Homo sapiens: one gene and its partner. The protein of the gene in region 1 interacts with the protein of each later gene in a biochemical or structural test. Each region holds a gene or a part of one and is shown on either strand. Other genes may lie near its edges.

The links.
Region 2: the proteins of NAP1L4 (region 1) and UBE2O are reported together in a solved structure, tested with the Homo sapiens proteins (one study listed by BioGRID).

The regions. Positions count from the first base shown.
Region 1 is NC_000011.10:2,981,184-2,986,563, reverse strand, and holds part of NAP1L4 (nucleosome assembly protein 1-like 4), read left to right. Parts: intron 1-5,380. UniProt on the Homo sapiens protein: Acts as a histone chaperone in nucleosome assembly.
Region 2 is NC_000017.11:76,388,956-76,391,554, forward strand, and holds the end of UBE2O ((E3-independent) E2 ubiquitin-conjugating enzyme), read right to left. Parts: coding exon 1,988-2,599; 3' UTR 501-1,987; downstream 1-500. UniProt on the Homo sapiens protein: E2/E3 hybrid ubiquitin-protein ligase that displays both E2 and E3 ligase activities and mediates monoubiquitination of target proteins. Negatively regulates TRAF6-mediated NF-kappa-B activation independently of its E2 activity.

The DNA of each region.
Region 1 (5,380 bases):
TGAAAACATTAATTACATTTGAATTAATTTTAATCCTTCAGTTATCTCCCATAAAGACATTGAGGACCTTTGAGTTTATTAAGACAGAGTAAATATATAAAAGTTTTGGGGAGTACGACTACACTCTCTAGCTTTGTCTCTCAAACGTGGCCCAATTTTTTTTTCCTTTCTTTTTCTTTTTTTTTTTTTTGAGACAGGGTCTGGCTCTGTCGCCCAGACTGGAGTCTAGTGGGGCAATCTTGGCTCACTACAACCTCCGCCCCCCAGGTTCAAGCAGTTCTCCTGCCTCAGCCTCCTGAGTAGCTGGGACCTCAGGCGTGTGCCACCATGCCCAGCTGATTTTTGTATTTTTAATGGAGATGGAATTTCACCACGTTGGCCAGGCTGACCTCGAACTCCCGACCTCATGTGATCCGCCCGCCTTGGTCTCCCAAAGTGCTGGGATTACAGGCGTGAGCCACCGTGCCTGGCCATGGCCCAATTTTATAGTTACTCTAGCTATGGAGTAGATGTTTTCAGTTCAAAATTAGGAATTTAAGGTTATATTTTGTTACAAAAATCTTTAAAAATTTCATAAGAAAACAGTTGTTTGGGGTACAAAGAAATTAATCCATAAATAGGATTGTTACAGTGACTAATATAAATAAAAGAACATTTGTGTAATCATGGGAATTATTTTATTTTATTTTTCCTCGACCCAATTAACTGGGTGAAAATTTGCTTGCCAGTTCAGATTTAGAATTGTAGACACAGTTAAAGTTTTTGACCTTGGGAGGGAACCTGAACTTTAGAAAACTTACAACATTCTTTTGCCTGGTATCCCTTTCATAATTTAACTTGATTGTCTTTTATTTATTTTTAGTTATTATTTATTAACACAAAATTATATTTATGATGTATAATGCGATGTTTTGAAGTACTATACATTGTGGAATGGCTAAGTCAAGTTAATTCACATTAGGTGGTATACTGATTCTGACAAGAACACTTAACATCTACTCTCAGCAATTTTTCAATTATGTGATACATTGTTGTTAACTATAGTCACCAGGTTGTATAGATCCCTTGATTGCCTTTTAAAAGTGAGAGAACCTTCTGGATGAGTCTTCGGGCTGTGGTTTTATAAGACTAGTATTAAACTGAACATAACATTTAAAACAAACAGATATTTATTTTCCTCAAACCTGTATATTTGATAGTTCCTTATAACTTTCTGTTTTAAGGGTGATAGGGATTGATAAACAAAAATAATTTGTGGTGCTGAAACTTGACTGAACTCTAGCTTGTTTATAATACCACCTCTCTACATTGTCTTTCCTTATTCAGGTTGAGCACTCCTGATCCCAAAATCAAAAATCCAAATGCTCCAAATTCTGAAACTCCGTTAGTGTTGACATTAATGTTACAAGTGGAAAATTTCACACCTGACTTCACGTGATGGATCACAGTTAAAACTTTGTTTCATGCACAAAATTATTTAAAATATTGTATAAAATTACCTTCAGTCTATGTGAATAAGATGTGTGGGAAACGTGAATGAATTTCATGTTTAGATTTGGGTCCCATCCCCAAGATACCTGATCATGTTTATACAAATATTCTAAAATCTGAAACACTTCTGGTCCCAAGCATTTCAGATAAGAGATACTCAACCTGTATAAAGGGTGCAGTGTTTAAAGTAACTTGATTTGTTGGTTTCATATCAAGGAATAGATGTAGTCTATATGCATGGCAGTTACAAAAGTGAAAAGAGACCTGGCCTGCTGTTATGTACTAGGAAATTTGTCTCCATTAACAGTTTCTCAGGTAGCCACTGTCTTCTAGTTTGTGGATGATGAAACTGAGGTCCAGAGGAAGGTTATGCAGAAGAGCATGAGTGGGAATGAGTATGGGGAAGTAGACAGGGCCTGAATTGGTAGGAATGTGTATTCTGCAGAAGGTGACGGGGGACCATTGAAGTGTGTTTGTTAGTTTTTTGTTTGTTTGTTTTTTGAGACAGAGTTTCGCTCTTGTTGCCCAGGCTGGAGTGCAATGGCGAGATCTCGGCTCACTGCAACTTCCGCCTCCTGGGTTCAAGAGATTCTCCTGCCTCAGCCTCCTGAGTAGCTGAGATTACAGGCATGCGCCACCATGCCCGGCTAATTTTGTATTCTTAGTAGAGACGGGTTTCTCCGTGTTGGTCAGGCTGGTCTCGAACTCCTGACCTCAGATGATCCGCTCGCCTCGGCCTCCCAAAGTACTGGGATTACAGGTGGGAGCCACCACACCTGGCCTTTGTTAAAGGGTTTTTAAATCTTCACTGACTAGGGCTGGGTTTGGGTTGCTGCTGTGGTCGTGGTGGTGAGCATAGCCAGCCATTGTAGGGTTTGTTGCCTTTTTTTTTTTTTTTTTTTTTTTGAGGCAGGGTCTTGCTCTGTTGTCCAGGCTGGAGTTCAGTGGCGCAGTGATAGCTCACTGCAGCCGCCAGGCCTCCAACTCCTGGGCTTGAGTGTTGCTTCTGTCTCAGCCACTCAAGTAGCTGGGACCAGAGGCATCAACCACTGTGTCCAGCCTCATTTTTTTTTTTTTTCTTTTTGTTTTGAGACAGTCTCACTCTGTCTCCCAGGCGGGAGTGCAGTGGTGTTATTTCAGCTTACTGCAACCTCTGCCTCCTGTGCTCAAGCGATTCTCCTGCCTCAGCCTCCTGAATTGGGACTACAGGTTCACACCACCATGCCTGGCTAATTTTGTTTTTTTTGTTGTTTTTGTAGAGACGAGGTTTCCCCATGTTGCCCAGGCTGGTCTGAAACTCCTGAGCTTCAGGTGATCTGTGATAGGGGTAGGATTTGAAACCAGGCTGTTCAGTGTGTGTCTGTCTTGTTCTAGGCATTGAGTTCTGGGTTGGTTGGTTCTTTAGTCAAAATTATTTTCTTTTTTATTGTGTAAATTCATTATTTTTTTTCTATCCTTGATTTAGCACTTTTTTTTTTTTCCAGAATACCGTGTTGGGTTTAACTTAACTGCCTTGTCATCTTGTTAACAAAAATTGTATTAAACAGCACATGCCGGGCTGGGCATGGTGCCTCTGTCCTATAATCCCAGCACTTTGAGAGGCTAAGGTGGGAGGATCACTTGAGGCTAGGAGTTTGAGACTGCAGTGAGCTATGATCCTGCCACTGCACTCTAGCCTGGGTAACAGAGTGAGACTGTGTGTCTCTTTAAAAAAGCACAGCCTTCACTTAAATGAAAATTGAGTGAATCATTTTATCAATGGACTCTGTTAAGTTGGAACAGGTACCATTCCATGGGAAGGTGAACCTCTTTGGCTCATGTCCTAACACAGGTGGTTTATGCTTTCAACAGATATTTATTATGCCAGGAACTGTTAGGGGCTCTGGGGCTGCATAGTGAACAGCATCAAAAGGGAGTATTGTCACACTCCATTTGTAGACAAAATGGATTTCTTGGAGATGCTGCTGAACAGTAGGATTTCAACCCTGACTAAGCTGTTGCTTGTCACTTGTTCCAATAGCAGCAACAGGTTTTTTGTTTTTTGTTTTTTTTTGAGATGGAGTCTTGCTGTGTTGCCCAGGCTGGAGTGCAGTGGTGCAATCTTTGCTCACTGCAAACTCCGCCTCCTGGGTTCAAGCAGTTCTCCTGCTTCAGCCTCCCAGTTGCTGGGATTACAGGCGAGTGCCACCATGCCCAGCTAATTTTTGTATTTTTAGTAGAGACGGGGTTTTACCATGTTGGCCAGGCTGGTCTTGAACTCCTCACGTCGTGATCTGCCCGCCTTGGCCTCCCAAAGTGCTGGGATTACAGGTGTTAGCCCCCAGGCCCAGCCTAGCAGCAACAGAATCTTTAATGAGCAAGTAGAAACAGCCAGAAGTGAAGTGGTGTTGGTACTAGGGAAAGGTTAGAAGGAGTCAGATTTGAAACACGAATGCATGTTTTACTAGCCGTGTGACTTTCAATTTGGCACCTCACCTTTCCAAGCCTCAGCTTCTTTTCGTGTAAACTGAGGATAGTCCCTCCCTAGTGGAGTTTCTCTTGGTATTAAATGTATGAAGTGCCTGACATGTAGGTCCCTTGCTAGTATAGGAGGTGCTGGAAATGAAGTATGTGTCTTTACGAGGTGTTACTGATAGGGTGATGACAACAAGAATCTGTCCATTAAACTGACAGTGTTAGATGTTTCCAGGTTAGTAGGCTTCTTTCAGCAATTAGTGTGTATGTGTGGGGTAAGGAAGGTGCTATGAGATACATTTCTTAGGCAATAGAGAGCTTCAATTAAGTAGCCAAATTACAGTTGATGTTATTGTGTAACTGTTTTGGCAGTATGTATCAGAATCCATTCATGCTCTTTGACCCAGAAATGCTACTGTAGCGGTCCTGCTATTGCCATATCAATTAAGGATAACTGGGAGTGGGAAGCCATATAAGCCAAGATGTTCATAGAGACATTATCAAAGGTATATAACAGAAAAAAACACCTCATTCTTTAACAGCTGGTAAGTGGTGTTTTAGCTCTTAGAATGTTGTCCTTAAACAATTGTTATGAAGTCTGACTGTCTCACACCTTGCATTTAGAATATGTGAGAAGGGAACTAACCTCAGGAATACTGTGATTGCAGCAAACATGGTGGAGGAGCGTGAGTGGGAATGAGTGTGGGGAGGTAGACAGGGCCTGAATCAGTAGGAATGTGTATTCTGCAGAAGGTGACGGGGGACCATTGAAGGGTGTTTTGTTTGTTTTTGAGACGGAGTTTTGCTCTTGTTGCCCAGGCTGGAGTGCAGTGGCTTGATCTTGGCTCACGGCAACCTCTGCCTCCTGTATTCAAGCGATTCTCCTGCCTCAGCCTCCCGAGTAGCTGGGATTACAGGCGTGTGCCACCATGCCCGGCTAATTTTGTATTTTTAGTAGAGACGGGTTTCTCCATGTTGGTCAGGCTGGTCTCGAACTCCCCACTTCAGGTGATCCGCCCACCTCAGCCTCCGAAAGTGCTGGGATTACAGGTGTGAGCTACCACACCTGGCCTCCGTTAAAGGGTTTTTAAATCTTCACTGACTAGGGCTGGGTTTGGGTTGCTGCTGTGGTCATGGTGGTGAGCATAGCCAGCCATTGTAGGGTTTATTGCCTTTTTTTTTTTTTTTTTTTTTTTTTTTGAGACAGGGTACTTGCTCTGTTGTCCAGGCTGGAGTTCAGTGGCGCAGTCATAGGTCACTGCAGCCGCCAGGCCTCCAACTCCTGGGCTCGAGTGTTGCTTCTGTCTCAGCCTCTCAAGTAGCTGCGACCAGAGGTATCAGCCGCTGTGTCCAGCCTCATTTTTTTTTTTTTCTTTTTGTTTTGAGACAGTCTGACTGTGTCTTCCAGGCGGGAGTGCAGTGGTGTTATTTCAGC
Region 2 (2,599 bases), on another chromosome or scaffold:
AGCCTCCCTCAGCTGTCTCCTTTCCCTACCTGTCCCTGTGGAGGAGTGCCAGGCAGGAGTGGAAAGAATGTGGCAGGGAAGGATCCATCCAAGTCTAAACTGGGCAACCATTTTGGCTTAGCGTCCAGGAGTTGTGGCACCTGTCCACCGCCAGGTGCTATGACGTCGGCTCTCCCAGAACCTGGAAGGAGCTGAACTGGTCAGTTGTAGGTCTCTGGAGACTACAGCTGCTGGGAGGCTGCTCTAAGCTGGCTCCTGAGGGGCACACCACCGGCCAGGAGGAGGCCAGAGGACTGCTCCAGGACAAGAAGTACAAAAGGCATGCAAGCAGGTCTGGCAGGCAGAGGGCAGTGTGGGCGGGTGGGGGTGCTGTTCACAGTGGCCCCCACCTGGCCAGGAAAGCCAGGACCCACTGCCACATGCCTTCCCTGGCAACAAACAAGGTCTTTCCTTCCCCAGGAAGGGTGTGTGTGAGGGACACAAAGGCAACGGAGCCCAGATGAATGGCAGAGGGAGGTTTAATGGTGTCACCTTGTCTTGCTAATGAGCCAACACAAAAAAAAAAAAAAAAAAAAATGCAAGTAAAAAAAAGTTTAATCACACAGCACTTTATACAGATATCGTAAGCAGTAGGCATTCACATCTCCACATGTACAATGCACTGGGAAGCACAGCCCCACCAGTCACTCCGGGTGTTTCTCAAACAAGATACCGACTCGGTTCCAAATGCCACGGTGTGTGGTCCGGCTCCATCCTCCCGCAGCTCTGCTGGCTGGGCGGTCACAGCACAGCACAGGTGTGGAGCCCACTTAAGGCTGACAAGACGCATCATGCTTTGGCTTTTTTTTTGTCTTTTTTTCTAATAAGAGTTAATATCTTTGCTTTTGAGTTTTTTTTCCAACCTTAAATATTACATACATACACCAAAAATTACATAGCTGCAATGTGCTCAACAGCATCCTCTCGGCCTGGAGCTTCACATTATCAAAAGCTTAGAAAACTTGTAAACCTCTGGGCCTGTCTCTGGGCACTAGGAGAGCCCCCGCCGGCCGTCCCCTTCGGATTGAGCCTGCAGTTTGTAAGCGAAGGGCTGACAGTAGGCCTTCTAGTCCAAGAGAGGGCTGGCTCGCTTGGAGTTCAGTGAGCTGCACGCCTGTCCCAGTGTGACCATGTGATGGGGGAGGGGCCCTAGCACTTGCCCTGGCCTTGTGCAGCTGCTCTTGCCCCCAGCAGCCTCCGACAGAAGAGCAAGGCACCTATAGCTGTTGCTTTCCCTGCAGCTCCCTGGTCCTCAACTCCATGTGCATGTGTGAAGGCCACCACCTCTCCTGGGCGTCACCCGGAACCTAGCCTGGTCCCAACCTCTCTTAGAGAGCAAGTTCAACAGGCCTGAGGGCTATAACGTGGTCGACAGGCCATGTATAGCCGGGAGTCAGTGACAGCAGCTACAACTCCCAAGGGATAGTGTTGACGCTGGAGGACTAGGGAGGACCTGGGTGGTGGTGGCAGCAGGAGGGTCTGGGACACAGGGAGGCTTGAGTTGAACTAAACAGGTTGAAAGGGACCAGGGGAATTGTTGGCGCAACCCACACTTCATGCAAGGCACATGTGCTCTCCTGCGGGTCTGCAGGGAACCGGCCCAGAGAGCCCCGCGGCAGGCCCTGGAACACCCGCCTCTGACCTGAGAAGGGGCAGCAAGGGAGCAAGTGCCGGACATTCTGCTGGGGTGACAAATGGAAAATCGGCAACAGGGTTCCGATTTTCTTTGCCACAGGGGACCCGCCTGTTGAAAGCTCGCTTCAAAATAGAAACGGCAGCATCTCAACACACTTCTTGCACTTCAGCATCAAACTCACCTTGGGGAGAAGAGGGCAGTGGGTTTGCAGTGGGGACAGAGGGGCATGGGAAGAGGGGTGATTCCGGGGGGGAGTGAGCAGGCGGCGGCTGGCCTCTCCCACGGTGATGCTCTTTCCTCTGTGCCTGGCAGCTACTTGTCCTCTGTGCACTCCGGCATGCCTGCCTCTAGCAGGGCAGCCCGGAACTGCGTCAGGACACCCCGGATGCTCTTGATGAAACCCTTGGAAAGTGGGAAGAGGGGGAAGCCGATGTCAGGGTAGCCACTCTTCTCAGGTAAGAAGCTCCGGTAGCTCTTTCTCCGCTTCTTTGGTTTCACACTGGGTGGCACCGATGCGTCTGGTGCGGTCTCCGAAGTCTGGTCTGTGTGGTCCCTGCTAGCTGAGGCCAGGCCCTGGGCACCGCCCTCTGAGTCTGAGCCCTGGGAGGCCTCTCCTGGGGCTGGCCCTCCATCCTCAGGTTCTTGTTGGCCGGAGTCTGACAGCTCGGCTACAGCTGGGGGCTCTGGCGAGCTGCTGGCCTTGGGCACCCCGTTGGGCAGTGCCTGGGCCTTCTCCAGCAGGGCATGGGTTTCCAGCCAGGACTCGATACGGTTCACCAGCCGCCAGCCACCAGTGCTAAAGTGTTGCCTGATCTCCTGCTCAAAGACCTCGGGGGGCCGCCGCACCAGCTGGGTCATGGACTGCACCACGCGGATCAGCGCCATCTCATTGTAACAGCGACTGTTTTCATAGCCTTCCTGCAG